2 separate regions of the Homo sapiens genome follow, and region 2 is linked to region 1. The links come from fine-mapping of genetic effects on gene expression. Tissue or cell type: nasal epithelium. Region 1 holds a variant in brackets; the other region holds the start of a gene. All regions are shown on one strand. Distances are from middle to middle.

Region 1 (8,107 bases):
GACTCTCTGGAAGGATCTTCAAACATCCTTTTTACTTACATTTGATGTAATTATGTTGGTATTTTGGGAAGAGTCATGTGTCCCAAATGATCTACCATTTCCATCTTCCTTTTTGACATATTCTGAATGAAGTGAGTGCAGTGTCAGGCAGGACCATCCAGCCTTTGAGAATACATCTCTTTCTTTCTTTTTTTTTTTCAGGTGCTTATACTTTTTGTCCATACTCTTAAGCTAGGATGTACTTGTTTTGGGGATCTAGCAGTTTCTAACAACTTAGACTCAGGTTGCTTCATTTCTTTCTTTAAAGGCAGCTGTTTGTACTTCAACAATGGCCAGTTTTGAGAAATGGATAGTCTGTTACTTAAATGTAAAAAAATATTTTTTGTTCTCAGTTAGTGTGGTAAACTTTTTGTGGAGTAAAAATGAGCTTCCTACAGAGACCCTTCAAATATACCCAAGCTGGCCTGGAGAGATGGGCCCCTCGGGCTGCTCAGCCCTTGTTGCTAATGGATGCACACACCTGCACTGGTGTTTGACTCTGCTGGGGAAGGCCACAATGACCTGCCAAGAAGAGGATCTGGGTGCAAGTGTGTGGTAGTGGCAGATAGCTCACAATTATGCCTTGGCAGTGGGAACGTGTGTTCGCCCAACTCAGAGAACACTAGAACTGGAAGAACCCCAGATATGGTGTCAGCTGGTGGTTTAAAGATGCACCATGTGGAATCCCCTTTGGGGCCACCCACCACACCCCATGACCCCAGCAACTTTGGGGTTCATTCTTTTCTTTACTTTTTGCATAATCTTTGTATCAAGGAAAGGTTCCATGACCCTTAAAAAAATAGGAATTCAATTCAGTTTCTTCATTAGACAGGGGAAGAGATAGTAATATTTGTCCAAGGTCACAGGTGGTTTGGGTCAGGCCAGTAGGCATGGGGAGCAAGCAGCTATCAATAGTGGGCCTGGATAGGACCTATTAGTCTTAAGATGCTTTCCTTCTTTTTTCCTGGTACCATCTCTCCAGCCCTCAACACTGGGTCCAGAATATCTTCCCTGAGTAGCACTTGTCTGAGTTATATAAAGAAGCAGGATATTGTCTCCAGAAATCTAGTATCAAAAGGTCACCTACCTCCTACTGCACTCGTAGACAAATGTCCTTCATGCATTGCTGAAGACTGGTGGGGACCTGGAGGACTAGGACTCAGCTGGTTTGGGGTCGAACTTCTTCTATGTATGATTTTTTTTTTTTGAGTTGATCCTTTCCATTCCTCATGCTGAAATTTTATTAGGCAGATGATCCCAGAAACCCCATCCCCATCTCCATGCCACTAAGTTAAATAAGATTCACACTAAACCAGCTAAAATGCTGGTCCTGCTGCTTACTGGCTATGAGACTTTGAATAAACTCTATAATCTCTCTGTGTCTCAGCTTTCTCATTTTAAAATGACAATAAGATTTACTACATGTTTTAATGTGAGAATTAAGATAAATGATCAAATCCAAGAGTGTTTAGCACCAGTTGGGCTCTTGATAGGCACTGGATCCCAGATGGCTGTTAGTGTCTATGTTGCTGTGTTGCTGCCCAGGTGTCATGTTTCAGAAACCTTGCAGAAGTGGTGACAGAAAGGTGGGACAGTTAGGGTACTGGGTCTCATTTGTCTGGAAGCTGCAGTGTAGGCTGGAGAAGATCAACTTGAGAAGGTCATCTTGGGGGAAGCTGGACCTCAAACAAGGCAGTAGTAATTAGTGGCCAATGTCCAGTTAGTGGTCAACCTGCGTGGGCTGGGCAGAAATCCTTCTCTGTTGGAAATCTGATATAAGGGTGTAGAAGAGAATCCAGATGAGGGAAGGGTTGGGCTGGAGGCAGAGCCTTGAGCAATTTTCTAAGTAGAATAAGCAGCCTCATTGCTCACACTGGAAACTACTGGCATGTTAAAAAGCACTCCAGAATGTACTGGAAACTGTAATTTCCAGAGTCTTCTGCCATCTATGTTCAGTTTCTTTGCTCCCTAGCACTACTCCAGGTTCTCTGTGTGGCTTCGTCAAGGCGTGATCCATGCCTGGCTGCCGTGGACACTGACTCAGAGATCAGCAGGTGAGGGCTCTGCCATCTGCAAAATCCCTAAATAGAGCTTTGTGAAGAGCTGCCTGCAGTATGTGGGGAAGGAAAAAGTACTCGGTAAATTGCATTTTCCAGGGATCTTCTAGGACTTCTGTTCTGTTAGTGGTCAGGTATCCTGAGCACCTCAGACAACGCTGGACAGACATCTGCACTCTGTTAGCTTCCATTTAGGAAAATCATTTCACTGTCCTCTCTCAGCACTGGAAATTTTCCTTGCTTAAGCTGCCCGTTTGGCTGGATTTCTCTGCTTGAAACAAACATGTCATGGTCTCAGTGGGGAGAATTCCTTAAATGAAAAAAGTCATCGAATGGAAAAAATGGACAAACCTGGCAATTCTTCTTTGCTTGTGGTTCATACATTGGTTCTGATTCATCTTCAGTTCTTTGCTTGTGCATTTGGTATTTACTGGGTGCCACTTTTGCCTGTTATGGTGTTAGGATTGGGGCAAAGGCCAAAGAAGATGTTTTTCTAGCCCTTTAGTTGCTTAAAGCCTAATTAGAGAGTCCTGTTATTTAAAACAGGAAATTATAGCAATATAAAAAGTACTCAGGTTGAGGTGTGGCCAGAAGCTATGCCAGCTGAGAAGAGGGGTCTCTAAACAGAGTGATGTGTATGATGGGAAATAGTGAGGGGAGCTTCCCAGAATCATCAGCCCCTCACCTGACCCAAAGAACTAGCTGTCTTTGTCATCAGCTTTAGAGATAAATGTGTAGGGCTGGTTTCTTGTACTTTCTGAAATTGCGTAGCAGAAACATTTCTTCCATCAAATCTGAGATTTCACTAGAACTCCGCAGAGTCAGCCCACATATATACAGTCCTCTCCCCCAGCTCAGTCCTGTTAAGGCCCAGTTCAGATCTTACCACTTCCGCAAAGCTTCCGGCACTATCTATAATATAACTGATATTTCTCTTTGGGAATTACTTGAACCCCAGTGATGACAATTTTTCTTATGTTCATGTCTCATTACCCACAAGTAGATTGGTTTTTGCATAAAGTCAAGGATCACGTCACATACTCCTTTGTCTCTATTCAGGAGAGTAACTTGGGCCTTGCCCAGAAAACCTATTGTATAAATGTTTGTTTTTGCTGTAGTGGAATCACACAGATGGCTGAATCTGTCATTTACTATGTGACTTTAGGAAAATTACCTAATCTTTTTGAGCCTCGGGTCCTTCATCTATAAGATGGTGATCATAAGAGGGCTTATCTCATAGATTTTTGGCAAGTTAAATGAGGTATGGTGCTATGTGCTTAGTATAGGACCTGAACTTTCATAAGTGCTTAATGTAGGTTTTGTTGAAAAATTTCAAATAGATATATGCCTTTAGCAGACCTCATCTCTCATTTCCACATTTCCTCCTATATGACTGTTTACTACTGAGTAACTACCTATTTGCTGGAAAAATGAAAGTAACTTGGACTTTAAAGATGTCTTTAAAAAAAAAAAACTCATGTCTTAGTTAGCTCAGGCTGCTATAACAAAATGCTATAGACTGGGTGTCCTAAACAGCAGAAATTTATTTCTCCCAATTCTAGAGACTTGAAGTCCAAGATCAAGTCCAAGATCTCTCTCTCTCTTGCTCTCTCTCTCTCTCTCTCTATATATATATATATTCAGTGCCTATATATAGAGAATATGTGTATATATATTCAGTGCCTACATATATATATAGAGAGAGAGGAGACAGATGAGGACACAGCAGGAAGATATATACATCTCTCTCCCTCTCTCTCTCTATATATATAGGCACTGAATATATATATATATATAGAGAGAGAGGTGTATATATCTTCCTGCTGTGTCTTCATGTCTCCTCTCTCTGAGAGAAAGAGAGGGCTCTGATGTCTCTTCCTTTCCTTATAAGGACACTAATCCCATGATGGGGGCTCCACTGTCACAAGCTCATCTCGATCTAACTGCCAACTAAAGGCCCCACCTTCAAATACCATTACCTTGGGGATTAGGGCTTCAT[C/G]ATCTGCGTCTGGGCAGGATGCAAACATTCAGTGCCTAGCAACTCTCTTTTTCAACACTGAGGGATAAAAGGTAGAAAAAGGGGAGAGTAAAGAAGAAGTAAAGAAACACAGGACCAAGGGAAGCAGAGAAACTACTTCTTTTTTCTACACGCTTCTCACCCATGACAGCTTCCTGCTAGCACCTAACGGTAGATATCTGAGGGTGGGGACTGAGGCTGCAGCCAGGAGCACAGGGTTCTGCTTTAATGAGGGGCTGTGCACAGCACAGTCTTTGCCTGCTGAGGTGAGCTGAAGCCTCTGTGAGGGGACCGGCACCCAGGGGAGGGAGGCTGAGCCTGCGGGGGCCAAGGGAGAAGAAGGGCTAAGGCCCCAAGGGCTTTGTGAGGGCACTGGGTGAGAAAACTGTCTGCCAGTCACCCTCACACACAAGGTCAGGGCGGCATGGAGCAGCCTCCTGATTAGAACAGACCTGTCCCCACCCAGCAAAATAGGAGGGGCCTTAGAGAAAGATGAGACCGAATCCATGTTGACAGGATTCCTGTACTCAGCCCAACCTGTAACAGCCGTTTCAGAAAACACCAGCCCACGTGGGCTTAAAGTGGGCTGGCTGCTTGGCTTACACAGAGACATTTGAAAGCAGATAGCGGTTTGAAACATTCATGTGAGATTCAAAACAGGGACAAAAAGCTGATGGGGCAATGAGGGAGGGGGTTTCAGAAAGTTAGAAACCATTGATAAAATCTTGACATTTCTTAGGGAATTCATGCTTCCCCATGCAAAGTGAGTGGAGAAGGAAACTAGAAAATGGTTCCAGCACAAATGAGGGGTTAACCATCTCCCCATTTTTAAATCTTCACAGGACTTCCCTCCAAAGTTTACATAATCCTAGATTATTTCTCAGAAGTGTTATATTGAAGTACAGCATTATTATTTTGAAGTAAAACTCACAACGCTAGAGTTTGAATTTATTTAGACCTATGATGATGTTTCATTTCTTTTGTCAATATCGCCAAACATGTCTAAATTCATATGGACAGAGAAACTGAGGAACCAGGAAGGGTTACACACAAATCAGTGTAAGCAACTCCACAGCCTAGAGAGTACCAAGGGAGAGGGCAGGATATGGTGTTAGTTGTCCCAACTCAGGGTCTGAGGCAGGGCCTCAGGAGGAGGTATAGTCCTAGATGCTTCAGAGAACAGGACCAGAGCTAACGAGGAGGAATGACAGAGAGGCAGGTTTCAGCTCAATGCAGTCGAGAATTTCCCAATAGAACAAGATGCCCTGTGAGTTGTTGAGTGTCCCTTCCTCCTGCTGGAAGTTTTCAAGTTCAGACTGGATGGCCATTACCAGAGATTAGGAAGGGGACATGAGGTTTGCCACTCTGCTTCGATGTTCTGCCCCTGCCAGGGGCCCAGGGTGCAGATGAGGGAGAGGCAGGAAGTGTTTGTGGCTGTGATCCTGATAGGAATCTTCAAAGACCCAGGCGCTGCCCTGTATCAGCCCAGGCTTCTTTCTTTACTCTCTTCTGGTCAACCTGTCTTCCTCGGCTCCCTAAGCCATTCTGAGCCCACTGGAACTTTTTACACTTGACTTCCACTTGGGTTAAGTACCTGCTTCCTGATGTGCGAAGTAGCCTTTTATTCGTTTTGGTGTTAAACAGACCTCTTTCAAGTTAGAATATGCTCCCTACTTACAGTATTCTGGGATTTTGAGAATGATTCCGTGCAGCTACTGTCTGACTTTCTTTATCATTCTATAGCCTCTCCTAGATTTCGTCTTCCAAACCATGACCCTCATGTATCAAATCCTTTTCATACTAAAACCTGTTAGTCACCTTGATAGTTTTGCTGTCCTTTGGATCTTTTCCACCTCTTTTTGTGCCTTCTTCAAGTGGAATGCCTGGAACCTTTGGCAGGTTTTCAGCTTATATATACTACAGTTTTATACATGTTTACTCTGTTGGAAACGGTGTGATGTATATTTTTAAAAATGCATGATTTTGGGGCATAGAAAGTACTGGATCTTTTACTGACTGATGGGCTGCACAACTCTGGGTAAGTTATTTAACCAGCCACTTTGAGCATCAATTTCCACATTTGCAAAATGGAGAGAAGAATATGTACCTCTGTCATTCATGAGGATAAACAATGTGGCATTTAAAAGCCAGGTATATTGCCTTGCACACAGTAGGCACTAAATAATTTAAAGGAGGAGAAGAAAGAGAAAGTTCCCATTGTTGGGTACGTCTTTTCAATAGTGGAAGACATAATTTAATGTAATAGGTAAGAAACATTTTTATAAAGTACTTTTTGAACCTCTCTGTAAGATTCAAATTTCTCTTGGTCATATTCATTTAAATTGGTCTATTTTGGTTATGTACGTAAAAACATTGCGTTTATATTATTAAATGTAAATTAAACTTATGGCCTTGCATCTTTACTAACATAAGTAGATAATATATGAGACATATACAGTGTTAGACCATTGTCTTCTGTTTACTGTTTAGACAGTGTTAACATCTCCCAGAAGCAAGAGCTATGGCGGGAGAAGTGGGAGAGGCACAACTTGCCAAGCAGAAGCCTCTCTCGGCGTTCCATCAGCAAGGAGAGATGGGTGGAGACACTGGTGGTGGCCGACACAAAGATGATTGAATACCATGGGAGTGAGAATGTGGAGTCCTACATCCTCACCATCATGAACATGGTATGCCAGACTACATGGGGGCTGGGGCAGCTAGTGAACAGATGTCATTAGAAATGCTTACATAAATAAATAAGAAAGGCCTTTTTGGGGTCCTTTTAACTTATTTTTATAAATATATATGTGAATCTAGTACCTGCCTAAGGATGAATATGGATGGAAATTCAGGATGAATTAGTCTTTCCCTTAAAGATGTGTATCCTGGGAACATTTTATAATTTATTAGTTACATACTTCTGGTAGGTATTTTCCAAGTGACTCAATCCTTTTCGTGTGGCTTTGTCTCATCAGTTTATGTTAGTAAACCGAAGGAGTAAACTGAGGCAAAGAACTAGAACATAATTTCCTCAAAGTAGTTAGAAATAGAATTGGAATAAAGTTAATGACTCTTAATTTCAAGCTTTCTCTTTGCATTGTTGATGTTTTCTGCCTTCAAGAAGATGTTAGTCCTATTGAGGTGGGAAAAGGTATTTGCCTGAGTAACTGATAATAGAAGAGGAGAATACTGTGGGCTGGGTTAAGAAAAGAAAAATGTTAATCCTTCAAACACACAGCCAAGCTATCACCCTGAAAGATTTTGTTTAAATATTGTAATGTGGAATGAGCTGTGGGCATATTTCACTCTTCTTAGCACACCGCCAAACATTTCTGACCTATAAGAAAACCTTTATTTTATGTGCATTACAATGCTATTTTCTTCTCTGGTATTTATTTATTATCTCTTCGTGTGGAGCTAATGGTTTTCTATTTCTGACCCTAGGTCACTGGGTTGTTCCATAACCCAAGCATTGGCAATGCAATTCACATTGTTGTGGTTCGGCTCATTCTACTCGAAGAAGAAGAGGTAACATTTTTTCCCTTCACTCTTCTGCTATATGTCCTCGCACTTCCTACCTTCTTTTTTTCAGGGGAGTTCTTGGTAGACAAGAAAGAGGGTACCAGAAAGTGTTTGGAAGCCCATCGAGAAGGAAAATATTATTTCTGTGTTATTCCCTTGGGAGTTCAGTGATACTGAGCGGGATGTGGATAACATTTCCAAAATATACATAGTTGAAATCTCTTGACAGTCATTGTATCTAATAACATACACATGAGACTCACCGCAGTCACTAAAGATGTTCTGCAAAAGAAATAGACTAAATCATGACATGGTTGGATGGTTTCAGTAAAAGGTAAGAAAGACATGGAAATGTCGAACCTTTGATACTACTAATTTACTTCTTGCATATTTAACACAAGCCTCTCAGATTTGGGACCTCTTGTCTATCTGCACGTTTACCTTTGGGGATTTCATCTATTCTCAGAGATGA
Region 2 (8,107 bases), 200 kb before region 1:
TTACTTTCACAGCCACTTAATCCTAGGCAAGTTACTTAACCTTTCAGTGTCTGTTTCCTCATCTATAAAATGAAGATACTAATGGTACCCACATAATAAGTTTTTTATGAAGTTTAAGTAAAGCAATACCCATATAGTCTTTAGCACAGAGCCAAGCATATAGTCAGCATGTAATAAATGCTTGCTATTCTTAGCTATCATTCAACTCTGGAATCTTGCATGGTTTTGTAGTGTTTCCTCAAGGGCAGCATGTTTGTATAAGCTCAGAGGTAGTTTGGATACTATGCAGTGATTCACAGTTCTGCTATCTACAGTGGGCAGGAGAGGTAGTTGGCTTTTTTATTGCTACCAACCTTGGTCACCAAGGGGATTTGTTACCTTTTCTCATTAAGCAGAAGCAAAGTTGAGGAGGATTAAGTCTCTCTACGCTGAGGTAACTCCAAGCTTTGGAGAGATTTTTGTAAATTCTGGAAAGAGTAGGAGGAACGTTAGAATAGTAGCAGAATGTATATTTGTGCTAAGTCATGTTGAGAACGTGCTAAAGTTGGAGACATGAATTGATAGTTGCACAATTAGATGCAATTATGTGAGTTTTTTCAACAGCACTTGGAAACAGAGAGCAGAGAAAATCAGCAGCTAGGGTAAAACAGAGTTAGATTTTGATGAGGAAGATATGAGATGTTGAATGTACTGGTTTAAGGAGGTGGATCAAAGGGTATGACTGGGCAAAAAAGGTGGTGAGTCCAGAGAGATGCTGATTATTAGAAAACCAAAGATGGGGAGATCAAGGAACTAGAAGTTCCTACTAGGCTGAAGATCCGAGGTACTGGGTATAAAGGTTTGGAAGGGCTGGCAGAATACAAAGTGTTGGTGGGATTTTATAATTTTAATATTTCAGTCTTGGTTGACTTATGGATAATAGATATTCCTGGTTATGGTCTTGAGAGTAGATGGGAGAAAGAATAAGGGAAATGCCATTAGAGTTGAAGAGGCTAAACTGTGAAGCCAGAGTGTTCAGTGTATCATCCCTGATATTGGTGGAACTCAGCAGTTCTCCAGAGTTCTTCAGGTTTCTGCCTGAGAGACAAATCTCTTCTCCAGGACCTGGGAGCTAGGAGTGATCTTGCCCTTTGGACAAGATCTTGCTTGCTATTAAAAGGAGCAGCAGGAGAAAAAAAGGTGGAAGAAGAAGAGTGACAGAAGAGTACAAGGAGGAGAGAGAAACAAGGAAAGGGTGAAGGGAAGCAAAGAAGAAGGGGAAGAGGAAGAAAAGAAAAGAAGCAAAAAGAATTCTAGCCCAAAGTTGTTCTTCAATGCCCTTGCAAATGCAGGTCATCATGCCTGTGTTATCTGAATGTCTTTTAACTCCAGTTGTGATCCTGCTTCCTAATGTTTACGTAACAGAAAAAAGGCTCAGAGTAGTTCTTTTACTTGCTTGTGACAACAAAACATGTTCTGTTACACGTAAAGGGGATTTAAGGTTGCAGATGGAATTAAGGTTGCTAATCAGCTGATTAGGAGAGTGTCCTGGTTAACCAGGATGAGTCTAATGTAATCGCAAGGGTCCTTATAAGTGGAAAAGGGAGGAAGAAGAGTGATGTGATGTGAGAAAGACTCAAAGGGCCATTGCTAGCTTTGATGGGGGAAGAGGGCCATGAGCTGAGGAATTCAGGCAGCCTCTAGAAGTTGGAAAAGGCAAGACAACAGATTCTCCCCTAGAGTCTTCAGAAATGAATGCAGCTGTGCTAACTCCTTGATTTTAGCCCAGTGAGACCAGTTTCAGATCAGAACTGTCACATAAGAAATTTGAGTTGTTTCAAGCCACTGAATTTATGGTAACTTGTAACACCAAAAATAGGAAACTAGCATATACCTCTCAAAGTCTTGGTGCCCATGTGTTCCACATCTGAGAGGACCACCTTGCTTTCAGACCACTGAGTTTGCCTTGGAGGCTCTGTCCCTATACAAGGTTGAGTAAGCTGGTATCCCAGAACTCTTGATTAACACATGTGGTTGGCTGGCAGCCAGGGAAAAGTCAATATTGGGGGCCGAATTCTTCCTGAATGGAGTAAGGAGGCCTGTTTCAGCTCAGAGGTGAAAAATCTTGGCTGGATTAGCCCAGTAAATTCTCAAGATGCCTGGCAAGCGTCCTGGATTGTGGCATTCTCTGACCGATGTAAAAGCTTGAGCCTCTGAATGAATGGACGCCCTCTCCAGGGTAGCCAGTTCAGGGAAACTGGGGAGATACCTTAACACCTTCCTGGGTTGACTTAATTCCTGGTTTCCTTTTGAGTGAATGGAGGTGGGCTAGGAAAGATGGGGTTCTAGAATCAGAAGAGCCGCACAGAGATCTGCAGACTCAGAGGGGCCCACAGGCATTTGCAGCAGTCACCTCATTGCACAGCTGAGGGGGCTTGTCTGAGGTCACATTAGCAGATTAGCGCAGCCCATTTCCCTTTGTGTGACTTGGCAAAGAGAAAAATCGCCTATTAGTTTTTCCAGTGGAAGAGAATCCCAGAGCGGTCCGAGTGGGTGAGGAGTCTTGATAGAGCGATGTTGGGAAAAGTTCAGGAACTTGGAGGAGAACAGCAGGGGAGGGGGCAGCGCTGAGCGCGGAAGGATGGAGGGAGTGGGGCCCCCCTCTGCCTCAACTCTGTTCTCCTCATTTTGAGCTTGTATTTAAGCACGCCGGGGGGCTGGCCTGGGGGCCTCTCACTCGCAGCTTCCTCCAGTGCCTCCCAGGGCGGCTCTCCCGGGTCTCCCCTATTTGGCCGGCTCGGCCAGCTGGGCCTGGCGTTCGGGGCGGGGCCGGAGGAGCGCGGGGGTGGGAGTCCGGGAGGAAGATGCACCGAGCGGGCGGGCTGCGAGGCCGCGGGGCATGCGGGAGGCGGAGGGGTGGGGACCGGGGTGGGCTGCGCCCTCCCGCTCTGGCCCATTCCACACCCCGCCGAAAGCGGACACTGTCAGCTGAATCACTCCCCTTTTAGGAGGAGGGAGGGGAAAAAGGTGTCTAGCTCCTTTCTGCTTAAAAAAGCACAGGGAGATCGCGGGCAGCTTTGCAGTCGCTGCCTTCTCGCGCCTGACCATGCACCCCTGCATCTTCCTGCTGGGCCACAGGCGAGCGCTTTATTTCTGGAGCTGAGGGCTAAAACTTTTTTGACTTTTCTTCTCCTCAACATCTGAATCATGCCATGTGCCCAGAGGAGCTGGCTTGCAAACCTTTCCGTGGTGGCTCAGCTCCTTAACTTTGGGGCGCTTTGCTATGGGAGACAGCCTCAGCCAGGCCCGGTTCGCTTCCCGGACAGGAGGCAAGGTTAGTGACTCTTCTTTATTTCTTTTTAAAACAGTGGTGGTAAGACTTGCGGGAATTTTGTTGCTCCCCTTTCCCTTCCCCCACCCGGCAGAACTGAACTCTGAAAAGCCATTTGGCTGCGTTGTAAGGAAATCTGGGCTGGGACCTCAGGAGCCTAGGCTTTCTCAGAATTCAGTGCTTAAGGTGATGAGTCCTTCATTCTTATAGAAAGGTGAGTACCTCACTCTTTTACAGGGATGACACTGCAGTCTTTGAAAGACCCAAGAGGTAGCTGGTAACTTTTTCTCTTTTGTCTCCTCTTTGAATGCTGTACTGTTTTGATCCCCTATTTTTCAGACTCTAAACATGGAAAATTTTTTTTTTAAGTGCTAACTGGCTACTGGCCGTCATTGCAGTGTTTCTAGTTAGTTTTAAACCTCTGGTCAGGAAAGGGGAAATGTGATTCTTCCCCCCTACTGAGCAGGCTTGGCTGTGTTTTGGTTTCCTGGAAAGATTTAGGGTTGTATTTTTGAAAGAATAGTCCTTTTGGGGGAACTATACCTCCATAAGGGCTCACTTTTTCCTGTCCTGTCTCACTGACCACAGCTGGCTGCTTCTCTTTATGAATTTCTGAACTCATGTTATTGTAGGAAGCATTGGAAGCGTTCTGGTGGACAATTTGTTGTTGTTGTTTTATTCTTTTAAGCCTAACAGTCAGCAGTTTATTGGACTTGGAAGGGTCAGAGGCACCTTCATGTTTGGTGGGGGGTTCATTGTACCTCTGGGGGTAAACAGTCCTAGCAGCAGCAATGGCCCGCGTGGCACTCTGTGTCAGCCCATCCGATCACTGGCAATAGCCTTCCAGGGTGCAGGTACCAGTGTTGCTGTCCCTGCTGTACAGATGAGGATGCTGCAGCTTGGAGAGCTTATGAGGCCAGCTAATGTAGAGCAGAGTTTTCAGCTCAGGTAGTCTGACTCTTAGAATCATGCAGCACTGTCCTGTAGCAATAATAGGGACACACACGCACACACACACGCATATGCACCCACACGCATGCACACGCACACAGAGCACTGGGTTAGCATGCACTAAGTCCTGTGTTTGCTGACTGTGCTGAAGCCTCGGGAAGTGTCCTCCATGACTTTCTGACATCCCTTTAATTCCCAAGGCCACTCGGGTGATAAACATCACCAGCCTGTCCTTGTTTAGGATTTCTAAGCAGGGTTTTCTGCTCATGTTGTAAAATTCAAATATTGCTGGACAACTCATCTGCTGTGGCTTCAAGACGTATCAGAAGCAAGTCCCTCTCTTTGCTTTACTTGGAAAGCTGGAGCCAGCAAACACTGGGGTTAGATGTCAGTCAGCCAGCACTCACTTGTGTAAACGGTCCAGATACAATCTCCCACCCCCAAGTTTAAAATAGCAGGGCTTGTTGTTCTTTGAAAAACAGTTCCTTTGTGAAAAGTCTCCCTTCTGGGGCAGCACAAACAAAGCCTGCAAGCACTTCCCAGGGCATTTGGAGATGATTTCGTTCAAAGACACACATTCTCCTGGGTTGGTTTTCAGCTCTGCTCCACATCTTCTTTGTAAGGGAATTCAGCTTGGTGTGAAGCAGACACCACGGGGCCATGGTTTTTGCTCTCTGGAAAGTGAGATATGATTATTTTCCCTAGTCACCTCTATCTAGAGCTATGTGCTGAGAGTATCCACTGTTCAAAAAACCTATAAAGTGCTCCAAGCTTATTGGTGATATATATATTTATTTAGGTTTAAAAATAATTAGAGGTTTTTGTTTTTCGAGGCTGAGTCTTGCTCTGTCTCTCAGGCTGGAGTGCGGTGGTGCAATCTCAGCTCACTGCAACCTCTGCCTCCCGGGTTCAAGTGATTCTCCTGCCTCAGCCAACCAAGTACCTGGGATTACAGACGTGTGCCACCATGCCCGGCTAATTTTTGTATTTTTAGTACAGACGAGGTTTCACCATGTTGGCCAGGCTGTCTCCAACTCCTGACCTCAGGTGATCTGCCCACCTTGGCCTCTTAAAGTGCTGGGATTACAGGTGTGAACTACTGTACCCAGCCAATAATTTCAGTTTTTAAAAGCATTTCACCAACCACAATCAATTCCCTAGTGGATTTACAAATAATCCACATTTGGTGCAAAGGAGAAATTTCTAAGCAGACTTACATTTAGAATTAAGAAGGAAAGTCACAAAGAGGGAGGAAGGGATGGATGAGGGCAAACCAGTAGAGAATGAAATTCTAAGGCTATCTGGGATTAGGATGGCCTGGGTTTTTCCCTCCAAATGACCTACCTACAGCCTCACAAATAACCAATCTCCTTAGACTTCCATTTCCACTTTGATAGCATTTTTGAATGCATTCAAATCCTGAACGTTTAAACTTGCAAATTACTTCAGGATCATCTCACCCATTCTTATTTTTGAAATATTTAATTTTTTTTTTAATAGAGATGAGGTCTAGCTATGTTGTCCAGACTGATCTTGAACTCCTGGCCTTAAGCAATTCTCCCACTTCAGCCTCCCCAAATGCTGCGATTACAGGAATGAGCCATCATGCCTCGCCCCCATTTTTACTTTTATGGATAAGGAATGGGAGGTCTAGGGCATCAGTTAGTCAACATATATGATTGAGCACCTAATAAATGCCCCTTCACGAGGAGGGTAAAGGGAATTGCACAGGGTTCCACATTTGGAGACAGATTCAGACACTACATTACCTTTTAGGTTCCTTCTAGTTCTAAGAGTTGGGCTAAGTCAGGATTTTAGTCGTTGGAAGGAGTATGGAGATAAATCCAGTCCTTTCTGGGACTAGAAACATAGAAACAGGCTATTTGACTAACTGCCCAGTATTCTTTCCACATTGCTCAGTTGTGATATAGGAATGTGCTGTGACTTACACAGGATTTCTTGGTTCACAACCAAGTATCAGAACAACGGGAAATATTAATCTTGCACACAACATGCTGCGTGTCTTCTACAGCCAATCATATCCCCTTAGGTTTGTTTACCCCTATGCTGTTTACAAAGCGCCAGTCTGTTCCATGACCTCTTTTGCTCCTGACATCTCTGTGAAATCAACAGGACAGTCACTTTATTCCATATTAGAGATGAACTCCAGGCTTGTGCAAGAAACAGAGGGAATGTTGCAGTGTTTTCAGATAAGAGTTTTAATTATTTATGTATTCTATTAAAAAAATTCTGCAAGGAGGAAAGGATTTCAGCTATTTTCTTAATGTAAAAAGAGAGTTCACAGATTTGATATTTTGTGTTGATTATAATAATCTATACAGTTAGCACATTAGTTATCATAAAGTTTATGAGCAAATCCAACCTTCTGTGGCATACTTTACAATTTTGAGGAGCCCAACACAGTTCTTCACAACATTCCAACATGTGTAAATTTCTATAATAAAAATAGCGTTGCAAGGTTACAGTTATCTTACATGGAAGATAATTATGAAAATAAACCTCTATTACAGGAATTTCATAATCTTGTTTTTTAGAAAGGGATCTGAGAAATTCAATTGTCTCTAAGATAGAAATAAATATAAAGAATAAGTACAGATAATGCTCGCTTTGGAAGCACATATACTAATATTGGACCGATACAGAGAAGATTAGCGTGGCCCCTGCTCAAGGATGACATGCAAATCTGTGAAGCGTTCCATTAAAAAGAAAAAAGAATAGGCCGGCGTGGTGGCTCATGCCTGTAATCCCAGCACTTTGGGAGGCCGAGGTGCGTGGATAACCTGAGGTCAGGAATTCGAGACCAGCGTGGCCAACACAGTGAAACCCCATCTCTACTAAAAATACAAAAATCAGCCGGGCGTGGTGGTGCATGCCTGTAGTCCCAACTACTGAGGAGGCTGAGGCAGGAAAATCTCTTTAACCCTGGAGGCAGAGGTTGCAGTGGGCCGCCAAGATCATGCCAGCCTGGGCAACAGAGCAGGACTCTGTCTCAAAAAAAAAAAAAGAATAACTACTATAGACTGAGCCTAAACTGTATACAACTAGTAGGTAAATATTCTCTTACCTCTGTCCTTTCTAAGCTGAGGGAAAAAGATGCCTTGTTTTGTGTTTTCAAAAGTGCTTGTGCCAGTAGCCTTTACTTGAATTTCTCATGAAGTACCATTGAAACTTGTGGACTGAGGCCTTAAATATAATTTTAAACAAGGCAAATCAAAGTATTTGGAGCTTATAATATTTCTACAAACCCTTGTATAAACTGTGATGTAATTTTCATGTATCTCAGCCTCTGGCCCTCCCAACCCCACACCTTATTGACAACCCGCCTTGACATCTGTGCTAGGTGACAGACCCTGGAGATGCACACAGTGAGGGCAGAGCTTAGGAGTGTGTGCTCTGGGATCCGATTGCCCAGGAAAAAATCCTCATCCCTCACTGTTGTCACTTTACGGAGATGGAAGTATAGTCCCAGATGAGGGATACAGTTAATAATGCTTACTCAGAGAACTGTGAGGATTAGATAAGACCAAGCCGGCATACTCTTAATGTAGTACTTGACCATAGAAATGATAAAAATTAGGAGCTATTATTATTTCTTGACACCTATTTCTCCATCGCTGTCATATCTCCTCTGAGTTCTGCTTTCATTGGCCAAGATTATAGCTAACAAATCTGCCAAACTAATCTTAGCTTGCGGAGAGGAGGCTATGGTGAGTGTGGGCTTCTCTCCTGTCTCTGCTTGGAGGTTACACATGTTTATGTCCACAGTGATCCCGGGTAGCCAAGTTCCTACCTTTAAAACCAACAATGCTAATGTTTAGCTAATGA

What was found. PIP is the estimated chance that this variant, and not a neighbour inherited with it, causes the effect.
Region 2: ADAMTS12 starts here. The variant in region 1 is fine-mapped to the expression of ADAMTS12 in nasal epithelium (TOPMed, PIP above 0.99).

What each region holds. Positions count from the first base shown.
Region 1 is chr5:33,682,552-33,690,658 of GRCh38, reverse strand. ADAMTS12 (ADAM metallopeptidase with thrombospondin type 1 motif 12) reads left to right here. Exons shown (of 24, transcript NM_030955.4): 4 at 6,604-6,800; 5 at 7,558-7,641. Among named protein-coding and RNA genes, the nearest start is that of ADAMTS12, 210 kb to the left of the region's middle. The variant C/G (reference allele first, on the strand shown) is at 4,096.
Region 2 is chr5:33,886,936-33,895,042 of GRCh38, reverse strand. ADAMTS12 (ADAM metallopeptidase with thrombospondin type 1 motif 12) reads left to right here and starts at 3,053. Exons shown (of 24, transcript NM_030955.4): 1 at 3,053-3,313. The coding sequence starts at 3,187. It also overlaps the pseudogene RNU6-923P. RefSeq lists enhancers at 2,770-3,269, 3,270-3,771.